2 separate regions of the Homo sapiens genome follow, and region 1 is linked to region 2. Evidence: fine-mapped expression QTL. Tissue or cell type: whole blood. Region 2 holds a variant in brackets; the other region holds the start of a gene. All regions are shown on one strand. Distances are between the middles of the regions.

Region 1 (8,099 bases), 150 kb before region 2:
GCAGACAGAGAAGCCTTTTAAAATGTAAGTCAGATCATATTAGTCTTGGCTTGAAACGTTTCTCTAACTTCCCATTAGAGAAGAACTGACAATGGTTTACAAGGTCCCAAGTGCTTTGGCCCCATTCCTCTCTGTTCTTCTCCTTCCTCACCCTGTTCCTGCTACACTAGCCTCCTTGCTGTTGCCAGAAAGTGCCAGGAATCTGCCCTTGCTAGGACATTTGAAGTGGTTGCTCTCTCACTTTCTCAAACCTTTGCTGGAATTTCACCTTCTCAATGAGGCCTTCCCTGACCACTCTGTATAAAACTGAAGCCAGCCTTCTAGTTCTCCTTACCCTCCTCTACTTTTCCTTTTCCCATGGTATTTATCACCATCTAACAACAATTTCATATACTTGTTTATTATATCTGTTGCAAATTATCTCCTGCTCCTAGATAAATGCTCCATGCATGTGTTTTATTCACCTACGCGCCTGACAGCACAGCAGTGCCAGCGATGCCTGGCACACAGGAGATGCACAAGAAATATCTGTTGACTGAATGAATTATCATAAAACACTATTTTCATTGTGACTCGTAAATCATGTATTTATACACCATTATATTTCTAGACATTACGAAGACATTGCTTGAGCTAGATTTTCTCAGCACCTAAACATACTCCTACATGGTAAATCAGGAATCTCTATATATGGCATTTACTCTTTCAAGCCATCATGGTGTAATTTTTAAAGACTTCAACATATTTGTTTTTTAAAATAGAAAGTTTACTTTTTCCTGCTAGGGTACCTTTCTAAATTTCTTTGGCTGAGTCCTAAGCATTCTATAGATACAGCTATAGATATTTTATTCCTCCATTCATCTGTACCTATCATGACTCAGGGAAACATTCCCACCAAGAGTCTGAAGGATGCCTAGCCCTTTGGAAGTCCTAGTCATCATCCCAATGGTTATTCCTTTTTCTTTTCTTTTTTTTTTTTTTTTTTTTTTTTTGGAGCGGAGTCTTGCTCTGTCGCACAGGCTGGAGTGCAGTGGCGCCATCTCGGCTCACTGCAAGCTCCGCCTCCCGGGTTCACGCCATTCTCCTGCCTCAGCCTCCCGAGTAGCTGGGACTACAGGTGCTCGCTACCACTCCCGGCTAATTTTTTGTATTTTTAGTAGAGACGGGTTTTCACCGTGTTAGCCAGAATGGTCTTGATCTCCTGACCTCGTGATCCTCCCTCCTCGGCCTCCCAAAGTGCTGAGATTACAGGCGTGAGCCACCGTGCCCGGCCCCTAATGGTTATTCTTACTCCCATTTCCTCAGCTGCTTCCACAGAACAGACCTGGAGCCTCTGCCCCCTTGTTTCAAATCAACAACTCTGATTTTCGTCATCAGTTATCACTAACTGATATGTTCTTGTTTATGTCCTTCTTTGTATTTTTTAATCACTATGTGATGTTGTCTATGCATTTTTATTTGCTTATTGTTCATCTGCACTTCTTACACACACTCTTCATAGAATTTAAGTTCCTTGACAGCAAGGATCATGTCTGTTATTCACTGCTATATCTCAGAACCTAGCACCCTCTCTCAAGACGTGATGACAAGAGAGTCTATCCGAAGACATCCGACATGCAGTAACCATTTTGATTCATTATAGCTTGCAGGAAAGCATTCCCAAATAAACAAAGGGCCAAGGGCCATGAGCCTTCTATATACCCACACATAGAATTTCATCACAGGGAATGAGAGGCCAGCTTTCCCACAGCAAGGATGTATTTAGTGTTCCTTGTCCTTTCTCTTTCCTCTCTTTTGAACCATTAGCTTGGCTTTTAAGCATTATATCTCTCTCATGTAGCCCCTCCCTACAAAGCCACAACTTCCTTTGCAAAAGTAATTATGAACATCTTCCTCTTTCACGCATCTCTCTCCACCCTGGCACACACCAAAATACACTAATTGTCTCTGCATAAGGCTACTTGAAAACTTGCCGTATCACCATTTACTACATTTTTCAGGCTATCTACAATTTTTAGTGCAGTGCAGTCTTTCTTATCCATTCTCTTTTTACAAGCAAGTTGCCAACACTTGTCCGGTAACACTAAAGTACACTTAGAATTATGCATTTCTTCAAGGGAAGACAGGTGAGCCATGCTCTGCCAGATTCTTGTCTGCAAAGGATGACCTTGAAAAGTCCTGGAGAAACTGGCCTTTTCATTCCTGCGTGTTCACCTCCACTGTGCCTGCTCACAAAGGAAGCCTTAATGCCACGGACCATTGTACTTTTCAAGCATCATTGCATAGGGAAGAGACACTGCCTTCACTACTGCCATAGCCAATCTTAAATAAGCTAAAGAAATACTAGAAGTTGGGACTGTAAGTGAAATGGCATATTCTAAGGGCAAAAACCAATTTCCATGGAACTGAAATACCTGCCTCGTTTAAGGCAACCATATGACACACGGGTTCACAAGTGCTAAAAGTTCATTTACTCCCTCAGGTAAAACAAAGCTGCAGCTGTAGTTAAGGCTTGAGCTGCAGTTGTTTCCGGAACAAGAAATAGAACCAAGAAAAGATCTGCAAAGAAGCACTTGAAATGGACATTCAGACTCTATAGTTTTTTAAAGCAGTGGCAGCGTTGCTTCTTTCTCCAGCCAGACCCCAGATACCAGTGCCTACCAAAGTGTCCTCTCTCACACACCCTCCTACAGTGTTAGGCTTTGTGGGAAGTTAGAGATCATATTCTCCGGGGGCAAGGACTATCTCCCAAATAGGCAATGTGAAGACATCTTAGCAGGGAATTGAGTCATCTTGGGAGCTAGGAGGAAGATGGGTTACACCTTAACAATGGTCTGCAGCAGGAAGATCCATTAACCATTATGCCTTAGCGCACCCACTCATACTCACTCATATTCCCCCAGGGGTGCTCTGATACGACACTGTCCACGGACTGCACACTCTTCAGGTCTAATTAATGATGCCCACCCTCCCCACCTACTAAACACATTTGCAATTTAAGCATCTCTAGCTCTCCACTACCACCCACCTTTCTCCTCCACTGTCCCTTCTTCTCCATGGAGATAATTAACTAGTTGACTACTTATTAGTCCTTCAGTTGATTAGGATTTCAGGCTCACACTAAGGCCTTATCCTAAAGTCTATAAAGATTTGTGACACCGACAGGGTAAAAATTCGAAACCAGCTAGCAAAACTTTCCTGAAGGATAGAGATACTCAAGATCTAAAAATTATCTGAAGGGTTGGATTCCACACCATGAATCCCCTTTTCCCCCTTCCCCACAGCTCCCTATAGTGAAAGATCCGTAACCTTAGGAATAAATGATAAATCCTGTGACTATTAGGTTTTTCCTGGGAGTTCCTCGGAGACCCGGAGGTAACCGTGTATGTGCGTGCGAGTGTGTCTGTGTGCGTACAAGGTCCGGAGAAGCGAAACGGTCGCAGGTTCCTACAGACCCCGACCCTGTTCCCTTGGCCACCTGGTCCCCGGTAGCTGCATCCCTGGGCGGCGCACGCAGTGAAGCGTCGCGCTCTGGCGCCGGTGCCGCACCGAGGGGTATGACTACGACCCCTTGCGCGTGCCCGCCCCCACCTCCGCACCTCGCGCCAGCCCGCGCAGCGTGACCGGCAGCCGCCGCAGACCCGGCTCGGGGAGGCGCGGAGCGCGGCGCGCTGAACCGGAGAGGCGGGCCGGCTGCTGCCTTGCGTTCGCCACGCTGTCCTCCCTCCTCCGCTCCCTGCGCCCCACCCCTGGCGGCCGCGCTGCCTGGCAGCCCGGGAAGCCGCGGCACAGCTGCTCGGCGCCTGCAGCTCCGGCTCGGGGGCTGGAACCGAAGCGGGGGCGGCGGGAGCGCGGAGACCACAGCCCCCGGGGAGAGGCGGAGGGGGTCCCTGGCCTGGGCGGAGAGGCTGAGCTGAGTGCGCGTGAGAAAGAGGGCTGCACCGCTGCTCGGCGCGGACTCTGCCAGCCCCAGCTTCAGCCCCGGCTCAGGTCGCCGCAGCCCGGGAGCCTCCCCGCTTGCGCCCCAAGGCACGCGCGGCACAGCCATGAACACCAACGATGCCAAGGAGTATCTGGCCCGGAGGGAAATCCCTCAGCTTTTTGAGGTAGGGCTAGAGCTGGCCGACGGGCGGTAGCATCCGGGGACTGCATCTCAGGGGTTCGGGTTGAGGCAGCCGCGCCCCGTCCCACCTTCCCCACACGGGGCATGTAATGAAGGGGCTTGTAGAAGCGCACTCGCCCGCTCCCCCGAGGGTAGTCGCCTTTCCCGCGGGTTGCCAGGGTCCTTGTCAGAAGGCTGGGCTTAGAAGCCTGCATCTCACAGATCAAGTTTCAGTCTTCCAGCAGGGTTCTGAAAGCAGCCTGCTCCCATCGCGCCCCTCGGATGTGGACACCCAGGGTGGGCTGCAGACCGCGGCCGGGCCGCACTCTCTGGGGGCGAGGGCCAGGTCAGGTGGCTGCACTGTCGCCCAGCAGCGAGTAAAGACTCGAAACTGAGGGAGCCAGAGCCCTAGTCACTCTGCTGGTCGAGGGTCGGAACCCCTGGGGGAAAGAGGAAATGTGGACGAAGGCAGCCCTTCCTGGAGACAGCTTGGAAGAGAGGGATGAAGATGCAAAAAGCAAAACCCAACCTATCAAGTGCCACCTCCCCGGTGACAGGCCCCCAGCCTTGCTCTGCGCTTTCGCTGAATGAACTCCTGAGCACGTTTTTCCCGTTGCCTAGGAAGGGTTGGGCCGCAGGTTTCGCCAGTGCTCGACAACCCACCTGGAGATAGCGGGTCGGGGAGGGAGCTGCGAGGGGGGCGGACTCCTGTTGCTCAGTCTTCAGACCGCAGCACAGCATCATCTGCACCGGGACCCGGGAATGGGGGGACACTTGGAGACTGAGAGAGAGGAGGCTCGAGGAATGAACCTTGGTCTGTTCTAAGCCACAACCCCTGTCTCAGGTCGTTTGGCTTCCTTTCCTTCTCTTTGTATTTGAATTTAAAAACATTCCTGAATCTCAAGTGCTTTTGCTTGAAGTAGGGGGGAGGAGGAGAAAAGAATAGAAGCAAGCCAGGCTTCCTAAGCGAGCTCTGAAAGGAGAAATCCATTCACTGCAAACCTCGTTCCCCATTTCTGAAAACGGATAGACTGATATCGTAAACTAAAGGTCATGAGGGTTTTTCCCCCCGGTTTGGGGGATTTGTTCTGTTAAAAGGAATTTTAAAGCACCACTTGAGAAAATAATTTTGCCTCAGTTTCCCTAAACTATCTTTAAAATGGGTTGCCATAATTACAGGTCTTCTTTTCTCTCACCTCTATAAGCCACCGTTTTCAGGTCATCTGAAGTCAAGATTTCCAGGTAAACCACTCACTGAACTCAAGCGTGGTATGTGAAGCCCAAATCTAGCAAATGTGTTACTCCTGCGTGAAAATAATTAGGTGGTGTTGCATAAGGACAGGTCTTGAGAATATGTGGGAATCTTAAGAGTTGTTTTTTTTGTTTGTTTTTATTTTCAAAAAGTAAATATGGAAATTAAGAGGCGAAGGTTTTTCTCACAAAGATTACTACTGAGATATATTTCATTTCTACGCTTCTAAAAGAATCATTAAAAACATCTGTAGGAGGACCACGTGATTGCAAAAATTCCTACATAGTACATCTTTTTTTCTTTGTAAATGTGGGTACTGTTTTTCCTCCTTGGTGGAAGGTAACCACAGAGAAGTTTGATAGTTTATTAAAATCTACACTGTGCATGCAAATAAGTTATGGCAGGCCTTTTTGTTAAGGTTTTATGTTTCTTATTTACTTTTCTGCATATGAATGGGATAAATAATGCACACCCAGAAAAGGAAGTCAACTTGCTTGGGTGAAATACAGTAATGGACTTAGATTCACTTGTGGACAATGAGAAGATGGAAGTAGACTGCTGGTGACCTCAAAGGCTACATCCTTCAGTAAGACGAATCTGTGCTATGCGCAGCTCAAGAGGGAAGGAAAATCTGGCAGTTCTCCATGTGATTAGTGTAGACTGTAAAACTAAAAACTTTAGGTTTTTAAAATGGATTTTGCCCACCACAATATTTTAGGTGTACAAAGTTTAACAATTAGCTGTCTACTAAACACCAAGACATTGGCCCCAGCTGTGGATTTTAGACGCTATTACAGACAAACTGACTGATTATTGTATTGACGTATTGTCAGACAAGTAAATATATCTAACTGACCTTTTCAGATTTTTTCCTAATTTGAGACATCATGTAAGCTAAATGGAATATGGGATATCTCTGGTACGTTCATGTTTGAAATGTGTTTCCAGTTTTAGACTTTTTTAAACCCACTTTCTTATTATTTTGTCATGAGTTCTTAATTCTGGCTAACCTTATGGTGTGTATATTGATCTTGTAGCTTACAGCAGAGATTTGGCAATCAATTTGAATACTGTGGAAAGTCAGATTATTCAAGGTCTCAAAGGGTTCACTCAGAGACTGAGCAATAATATGTGCTGGTTGTCTTCAATCCCTGATAGTGGCTGGCTATTAGAAGAAAAGATTTGAATTATCCGTGAAGGAATGGAGCTCATTGTCCCATTTTAAAATCAATGCCCTTTGGTGAACCAGTATTGTTTAAGGACGCTGGAAATGTATATTTTCAGAAAAGAGTCATTGAGAGTGTTCACCCATTTCAGGCAATAGTAGGGATAAAAAGAGGGCATTTTGCAGAGGGCACAGAGAATCTCATGTTTTCTTTTATCTCATATCACGTTTCTGCAACAGGTACAGAGAAGAACATATGGGTTTTGGAATTGGAAACATTGAATTGAAATCCTGGGCCTAGGAGTTTCTAGTTGAGTAAACTAGAGCCATCACTAATATCTCTGAGCCATGATTTCCTAATCTATAAAATGGGGATAATAAAGTCACACAGGGCTGAGAATGCACTGGGTATGCAAATAAATATATGACACAGAGGCTTTTATTTATTAATGAGGCTAATACTGGCTTGGCGTATGGGAAGAATGTGAGAAGCTCAACTGCAATGTGTGTGTATATGGGACAGATTTTGACAAACAAACTGAATTGGATGCCCGGGTAATTTTTTCTGCTCCCTCTGCAATTGAACTTGGCTGATGGAGGTGCACACTCTAGCTTACTCTATTTAGGATTTCAGAAAACAAATGTACCTAGTGAGAATTGCCTACCATTCTGAGGAAATTACACAGGAAATAATTGAAAATAAAATACTGTATTTAAACAGATGTCAGCCCTTCAAAGGGTGTTTTGTATACTAACAATGTATATTGGTAAGAATAATCCTTTATGCATTTTCCATGAAATACTCTAAAGGAAAATATTTTGCACATCAGTCCAGCTTCCAGGAATCAGCATTTCCAAACTGGTAGCATTTTTAGAATCTAGTGCCAGTGACACATCAGACACCATGAACCAAAAAAGTAATAGCAGGATCATGCTTTGTTTCTTTTCCCCTCTGGAATCTCAGTGGATATCGTAGTGACTTACTCTATGTCAAATAGTAATTTTTTTTTTTAGTCTCAGACCTAAATTTTTTTGAGTCTCAGTTAGACTTGAGCTTTGAGGGATTTTTTTTTTCCAATTGGAAAACAGTTAAATATGCACCTACCAAATGCCAGGGAAAGCATCAGTATCTGGGGATTGAAAAATGAATTAGACTCACTCTGTGTTGTTGAAGAGCTTATAGTTTAGAAGAAAGACTATTGCATAACCGAATGGTTTCAGTATAAATGACAAGTATGATGTTTTATGCTGGATACCATGGGAACACAGAAGAAGGGGTTCACAGACAAACCTAGGGATTCAGAGAAGACTTCCTGATAGTAATAATAACTAAAACCAACAAAGTTTATTGGGCACTTACTATGTGCCAAGCATTTAATATGCACTGTACAAATATGAAATTATTTAATTCTTAAAAAACTCTATGAGGTATTTATTATTACCCCCATTTTCTAAAAGAAGAAACTGAGGTTTAGAGACATAAAGGGTGGGTAGGAGTGAGATAAATAATGACCAGGGGCATTTTCACATGCTGCATTTTATCTCACTGTGATGAAGTGAATGGCTCTTCCATTTTAAAC
Region 2 (8,108 bases):
ATTACAAAAAAAGAAAACTGCAGACCAGTATCTTTATAAGTGCAGATGTGAAAATCATCAACAACATATGTAAAAAGCCTACAGCTAACATCATACTTAATGATGAGAAACTTGAAGCTTTCCTGCTTTTCTGCTAAGAAAAGAAATAAGGCAAGGATGTCTCCTTTCACCATTGCTTTTCAGCATTATACATAGAAGCCCAAGCTAATGCAATAAGACAAGAAAATAAAAAGCATATAGATTAAGAAGGAATAAATAAAAGTGTCCTTGTTCACAGATGAACACATAAAATGGGAACTCACTTATTACCACAAGGACAGAACCAAGCTATTCATGAAGGATCTGCCTCCATGACCCAAACACCTCTCATAGGCCACATCTCCAACAGGGGAGGTCACATTTCAACATGAGATGAGATGGGACAGAACCTCCAAATCGTATTAATGACAGTGGCTTTTTAGATATAGCACCAAAGGTATAATCCACAAAAGAAAAAGTGCATAATCTGGACTCCATTAAAATGTAAAACTTCTGCTAATGGTCTGAGCAGAGTGTGTAGAGTTGCTGAGCCCACACACTAAATCTGAAAATGACACCAGATTGACAAAGGTCACACCAAGGAAAATGTGTGCTGTTCCTCTTCTCTGTGTACTTTTTTGTTCATTGAAAATACCTGCTCAACACAGAGAAAACTATCACTTAGGTTCTCAAAACCTGAAGCCACACTTCTGCAGCTTCAGCTATCCAGAGGAACAAATGCCCCATCAATAAAAGTACTGACTTTTTCCCATAGGATGAAAAACCAAAACCAAAAACACTGATGAAGGTGATAGCCCAGGCCTTCCACTCCATTATTAGGCTTATTTGTACCTTTGTCCATTCAACCAGCTTCAAAGGAGGAGGTGTGCAGCTTGTCTTCAGGTTTATGCTCTATCCAAGTTCTTTTTTTTTTAATTTTTTTAATTATACTTTAAGTTTTAGGGTACATGTGCACAACGTGCAGGTTAGTTACGTATGTATACATGTGCCATGTTGGTGTACTGCGCCCAGTAACTTGTCATTTAACATTAGGTATATCTCCAAATGCTACCCCTACCCCCTCCCCTCACCCCACAACAGGCCCCAGTGTGTGATGTTCCCCTTCCTGTGTCCATGTGTTCTCATTGTTCAATTCCCACCTATGAGTGAGAACATGCGGTGTTTGGTTTTTTGTCCTTGCGATAGTTTGCTGAGAATGATGGTTTCCAGCTTCATCCATGTCCCTACAAAGGACATGAACTCATCATTTTTATGGCTGCATAGTATTCCACGGTGTATATGTGCCTTTTCTTAATCCAGTCTATCATTGTTGGACATTTGGGTTGGTTCCAAGTCTTTGCTATTGTGAATAGTGCCACAATAAACATATGTGTGTGTGTGTGTCTTTATAGCTGCATGATTTATAATCCTTTGGGTATATACCCAGTAATGGGATGGCTGGGTCAAATGGTATTTCTAGTTCTAGATCCCTGAGGAATCGCCACACTGACTTCCACAATGGTTGAACTAGTTTACAATCCCACCAACAGTGTAAAAGTGTTCCTATTTCTCCACATCCTCTCCAGCACCTGTTGTTTCCTGACTTTTTAATGATCGCCATTCTAACTGGTGTGAGATGGTATCTCATTGTGGTTTTGATTTTCATTTCTCCAATGGCCAGTGATGATGAGCACTTTTTCATGTGTCTTTTGGCTGCATAAATGTCTTCTTTTGAGAAGTGTCTGTTCATATCCTTTGCCCACTTTTTGATGGGGTTGTTTTTTTCTTGTAAATTCAATGTGCCAGACTCTATATGAGGTGCTGGGGATACATTGGTGGGCAAAAGATGGCACAGTTCCTGCTATCATAGAGCTTATAGTAGAACTAGACAAGAATAGAATAGTCAGAGAAATAAAGTTAAAACTGTGAAGTACTTGGGAGAATAAGTGCATGGTGCTGTGTGTAGATGTGGTTGGTGAGGTGAGGAAAGTCTTCTCCAGGATGGTCTAGATCTCCTGACCTCGTGATCCGCCCGCCTCGGCCTCCAAAAGTGCTGGGATTACAGGCGTGAGCCACTGCACCTGGCGGGCAAGAGATTCTTGAATTGAGATCTGTAAGATTGGTCATAGGTAACCAAGTATGTATGAGAACAGGAAAGAACTGGGGAGAAGAGAAAGGGATGTTCAAAAAGAGGAAATAGCAGGATGAAGCAGGAAGAAGCATGGCATCCAAAAGAAGACCAGGATAGCTGGAGTGCAGATGAGCCTGGAAAGTAGGGCTTTGTAGAGCAGGTTAGGGGTTTTGACTTTATCCTAAGAGCAATGGGGAACCTTGAAGAGTTGGGGTTTCTGAGGAGGGAGGAGAGTGTGTTGACATAATTATATTTGTGTTTATTTTTTAAAACATTTTTCTGGCTGCAATGTGGAAAACACATTGGAGAAAAGCAATCTATGGAGTTCAAAAAAAAAAAACAAAAAAACAAGGCATCTATGGAGTCCAGAGTGGGAGGCTGCAGTGGTCCAAACAAGAGTTGATGGTGACACTGGAGTAAAAAAGGGGACAGAGAGAAAGAGGTGTATTTGAGAAGAACTTGTGACGAAAGTCAACAGGACTTCATGTTGGAATGGATATGGGAGCCAACAGGGGGTGAGCTGTTGAAGATGACTTCTGGGTTTTCAACTGGTACAGCTGGGTAGACAGTGGTGGCATTCACTGAGAAAAGACGAGTTCTGTAAAGATAGGGCATGAGTGTAATTTTAGACATGCTGAGTTCAAAGTGCCTTAACATATCCAAGTAGAAAATTTCAGTGAGCAATTAAATATATAGGTCTGGTGTTCAGAGGAAATATCTGAGCTGGAAATACAAATTTGTGAGCCTTTTTAATATAGATAGGACTTGAATTTGTGAGTGGAGATGAGATAGAGAAAGAAAACAAAATTGAGAGAAGAGGCTCTATAGCTGAACACCGAGGAAATTTAAAGTCTTAGTAGAGAAAGATGAAAGAGCAGAAAGACGTAGAAGAAGCCATTAGAGAGATATGAGGAAAATCAGTAGAATGTGGTGTTCCAAAAGCCAGAGAAAACAGTATTTCAGGAGGCAGGGAGTGCCAAATGTGGCTGAGAAGATAAGGAAGAGAGAGACTGGAAAATAATCATTGAATATAGAAACACGGAGGAAATTGAGAACTTTACAAAGCGCTATAAAGTGAAGACACTTAAGCATGTTTTAACTCACAGGAAAGGTCTACTTGTTTGTGAAAAGGAGAATATACAAGTATAAGAGAGAGGAAAGTCTATCTGAATGTGGTAGGACTGGGTTCTCCAGCCCTGGTGGAGAGACTGGCATGAGACCAAAAGAGTCTCGTGTGGGTTAAGACAGAAGGAACATTGATAGGATAGGAGGATGGGTTTGTATATTTAATGGTGGGAAGTCAAAGAGTTCCTGTAAGATGACTTCCAGAGGCAAAGCCATCTGTTGAGATTTCAGGGTTTCAAGAGAGTAGAAGCCTGAACTGTTGTGAAATCTAGCAGGCAATGTGCTAAGGAAACACAACAGGATTACCAAGCATTTCATTTGATATTAGTGAATTGAGAGCCCATTTGACATTAGTGACTAGAAATTTATTTTGACGAATCAATCATTTTCATTTTTTTCATTCCTTTAGCAAATGTTTATTGGGTGGCCTTAGGTGCCAGACACTCTTATAGGCGCTATACTGAGTGTTGTGGAATTCTAGCAGGACACAGAGAAGGTCAGTAATTTGGTTCACACAGTGATGGAATTTTAGCAAATATGTGGTTCAGAAAGGCAGAGAGCAAAGCATTGGCAGAGTATAAGTGGTAATGAGCTGAGGATTCTAAGCAGTTTAGGAAGGAAGTGGGTAGAGAACAATTAGGAGCCAACGCCCAAAAGCACTAGAAGCATATTTGACTTCTTTAAAAATATAACCCTATGTCACTCTTTTAAATCAAGAGTGCTATCTCTTGGTTTAAAAGAATATTTGATCCTAGCAAATTGTGTCATTCTAAATAACAGAGAGGGAAATTCTCTAACAGAAAATGATATTTATTCAGAAATGGGCATTGCAATAGGAATATGGGTGCCATTGTAAACTATGTGTGTATTCAGGGAGGTAAAGGAAGACAAAGGTCTTGTAAGAAAAAAATGAGGAGGATTACATAATAGTTTTGAGATAATTATCCTTGGCTACAAGGATAAGTAACAAAGGTGGTGTCAGTCCAAGTTTGGAAAGGCAATTGCTGGGCAGATGTCCTCAAAGAAGTGTTTTCTGTGTAAGGTTGTGATGGCCTTTGTGTGAAGTTGTAGTTTT[T/C]GCAGAATTTTTTGTGGTAGTTTTGTTATCAAGAACTTGTGCGTGAGAATCCTCCCTTTATGGCCTTCCCAAGCACTGTTTTTCAGCTGTTTTTGGTTTTGTTTTTTTCTTGTTGACACAAGTGACTCTATTTTGATTCTGATAACTTTCACATTTCCCCCCTTTTGATCAAGATCTTTTTCTGAAAGTATCACCATTCAATCATCCTGTAGTTAGATTTTCATTGTCCCTTGGTGCCAGGATGTGTCCCAGATTGTTGGTCTGGTCCCATATCAGAAGACGTGATTGGTGAGTAGGAATCTGTGTCAAAAGCGTTCTAGCCACATTTGAGCAACAAGGGAGGCTTGGAGGAAATGGCTCTCAGGCTAAGTCTACCTGGAATTTATTGCTATGTTCAGTTTTGTCTATTCCATAGTATTTTGGCCACAATCTCAAAGCACTGGGCCAGCATTATTCTGTTAGGAGTTGTACTTCTGCAGAAATTTAACAAGCAACAGGTACAAGTTTTAAAAACAAAAATATAAAATAAAATTAATAGTAATATGGTAAATCCAAGTTTGTATAATGGTTTTGAGCCATGAATCCAGTCTTAAAGACAAACAATTGAATAAAGCAAATGACCATTGAGAATTAGATGACATCTGTTGTTACTGTGTGACCCATTTAAAAAATTCTGTGGATATGGGCCTCAACTTCCCCAGAGGAATTTACCCAAGTATAACATGTAGTATTAGTGGAAGCGTAGACTTTTTTTTATTTAAACAATAGATACCTAAGAGGTCATGTTCTTTTAAGTTATGAGCAGAAGCTGCTGATTGTGAAATCTGAATTACATCATTATCTTGCCAAAGAAAAAGGTAAGCATAAGAAAGGAAAAATTAAGAGGGGCAAGAGTCTCATTTTGATGGAGTGTCTTGGGAAACGCTGCCTATAGCATGAAGCCATCAACTTCTCTTGGCTTGCAGTTTGAATTCTCTGCTATGGTATCAGGTGGATTGGTGAACTTTCTGTGTGGCACAAGACTTGTCCTTCTTTTTTCGGGTATGAGACTTGTCTCTTGAAATTTATATCAAGTTGTCTAGCTTCATCTTCTAAGGCGGCAAGCACAGAGCAGTTTTTGCTCTTAGTTGGAGAGTTGCAGCCAAATATTGAAGAAAATTAGGAGAATTCAGGTTCTGATCAGATCTACAGGTAGAAGAGAAGAACTTGAAAACAATGCACAGGGGCACAGCCTAATAATAGGTGTATTATAGTTTTTTTCTTTAGAAACATAACATTCTCTCTATAGTCATCCTTATTTTTACCAAAGATAATCACAGTAAGACTAATTTGTTTGTAAAATATGTTTAGTTTTATCAAATTTTGCCAGCAAGAATAGTGATTTGACCATACGGTAATCTCAAACTTAAAAACTTCTTGAGGGTAGGAAGCCAAACCAAAGCTGACTTCAGACTTTATCTGTAGTACCTATAAACAATTTAAATATGACAATTTAGTCAAAACTTTTGTGATAAAACCAATGTTTCCACTTGTATCCCATAATAAAGAGAACAGATTCTTATCAAACTTAAGTAAACAATCATATTGTCATGAATAGTTTTCCCATTTTGGAGGGATCAGGTAGGAAGAAAAAGTAAATGCTTTCATTTTTGTTCACAAATGTTTACTTTACCAAGCAGCTGTAAACTATAGATGGCTTAAGACAAAAAGTTTTCTTCAATCTGGAAAACAAAACATTGAGGAAAAGAACCAGCAATGTTTCAAATAAATAGGCTATAAAATTTTTTATCAGTTCATTTAATTTCATGTAATTAATTCTTTTCCTGCTTGAGCTTGATTATTAGTTTCATAAATTTATTAGTTTCTTCATTAGAGTTCTGAAAATTTTTATTTAGTACATAATTTTTATTTATTTTATTATCTAATAACTTTGATCTTAAAGTTATTAGAAACTTATATTTAAGACTACTTCTTAGAGTCTTTTCCATGAATCTGATTGAGTATGTCTTTAGAAAAGAACTCAAACCAGTAACCGTGGATGACAAAAAGATAGAAAACAACCGTGGCTTAAAATCTGATGAAATCAGAAAAATAGAGTGCAAAGCATAAATAAATAAATAAATAAATAAATAAATAAATAAATAAATAAAATTTGATGAAAGTTCATGATAACCAGAAATTGACAAGGAAATTTGGTTACTTTGCGGCATACAACATAATAAGAATTCTGACTGATATATTAGATTTCTAAGAGTTTTATATGATCTTGGAACATTCATATCAATAACATACTCATAAATGTAACTGAAAAAAGATCTAGCATCACTTATCGTTTGACAATGCTTCCCATACAATTTACTAAGTAAACCTAATCATTTAATATCTCTATAAGTTGAGAGATACAGTCTTTGAGGCTCTCCAGGGCCCAACTGGAAAAATCACAAAATTAGTTTTAGGTCAGAAAGATTAAACTTAGAACTTGACCCTAGGGAAAACTTTCAAAAACTGTCAAGAGGCTGAAAACACTTGATCAAAATTAGATTACAGAAAGACTTCAAAAACAATACAGAAAGTTCCATGGATATAAAACAAACCAACAAAAATCCTTAACCTTTCCAAAGCTCAGTTTTCCTAAATAATCAAAAAACATAATAAAGACAATGTGAAGCACAGGAACTTACAAAAATCTTCATCTTAGGCCAATTACCAAAAGGGGGAAAGAAAGAAAAAGCTTCCTGCAATATAATTGCTTCTTACTGGAAGCCCGTTTAAATAACCTGGAAGTCTAACCTGATGAAAAACTACTTGAATTTAATCAGACACAAGAAGAGTGGGTCCAGTGGTATGAGTTTACATCATATCATAGAAGAAGTAAACAAGAAAACTAGTACCTTGAGCAGAGGAATACATGGCTCTTTAAAAAAGTGAAAACATGAAATTGCCTGGTTAGATGGAACAATTCAAACATATCAAGAAAAACCAAGATTGCAGAATCAAGATATACTGGAGGGGAACATTGCTTTTCTAGGGCTTCAAGACAAACATTTGAGCATCAGGTCATAACAGCAGAGCTTGAAGTAGAGAAAAAAGTTTCAGGAGCTGACGAAAAAGTTGAAGGAGCGAGTTATCAACCTAGCCAAGCAAAAAGATGTATCCTCTCAAGGAGGGACAGGAAGAGCAGAAGGCAGTGTTGTATGACCTCAAATCCTGTGCTGCAAGATACAGCAAAAATTGTACTTCTGAGATATGAATCTGAAAAGCTTCAAGAGGAAAACTTTACCTCAAGAAATGAAATTACCATCCTAAATGAAGAACATAGCACTTTTAATTTGAAACTAGGGAAAGTAAATAGACTGTAAAACAGAGGCTGGGCATGGTGGCTCACGCCTGTAATCCCAGCACTTTGGGAGGCTGAAGCCAGGGGATCACAGGGTGAAGAGACCGAGACCATCGTGGCCTACATGGTGAAACCCCATCTCCATTAAAAATATAAAAATTAGCTTGGCATGGTGGCGTACACCTGCAGTCCCAGCTACTCAGGAGGCTGAGGCAGGAGAATCGTTTGAACCCGGAAGGCAGAAGTTGCAGTGAGCCAAGATGGCGCCAGCACTCCAGCCTGGTGACAGAGCAAGACTCTGTCTCAAAAAAAAAAAAAAAAGAAGCTGCAGTTTAGAAGATGGCTGAAATTTTACAGAATTAAAAATCAAAGACTTTCACAAATTTTACTAAGAGCAGATTAGTACTTCAAGAAAACTCTGT

The links. PIP is the estimated chance that this variant, and not a neighbour inherited with it, causes the effect.
Region 1: AK5 starts here. The variant in region 2 is fine-mapped to the expression of AK5 in whole blood (INTERVAL, PIP above 0.99).

What each region holds. Positions count from the first base shown.
Region 1 is chr1:77,278,268-77,286,366 of GRCh38, forward strand. It overlaps AK5 (adenylate kinase 5), which reads left to right and starts at 3,752. Exons shown (of 14, transcript NM_174858.3): 1 at 3,752-4,106. The coding sequence starts at 4,047. RefSeq lists a silencer at 3,612-3,671.
Region 2 is chr1:77,427,654-77,435,761 of GRCh38, forward strand. The region is part of intron 8 of AK5 (adenylate kinase 5); the gene reads left to right. It overlaps LOC124904202 (a long non-coding RNA gene), which reads right to left. Exons shown (of 2, transcript XR_007066178.1): 2 at 5,080-5,534. Among named protein-coding and RNA genes, the nearest start is that of AK5, 150 kb to the left of the region's middle. The variant T/C (reference allele first, on the strand shown) is at 4,350.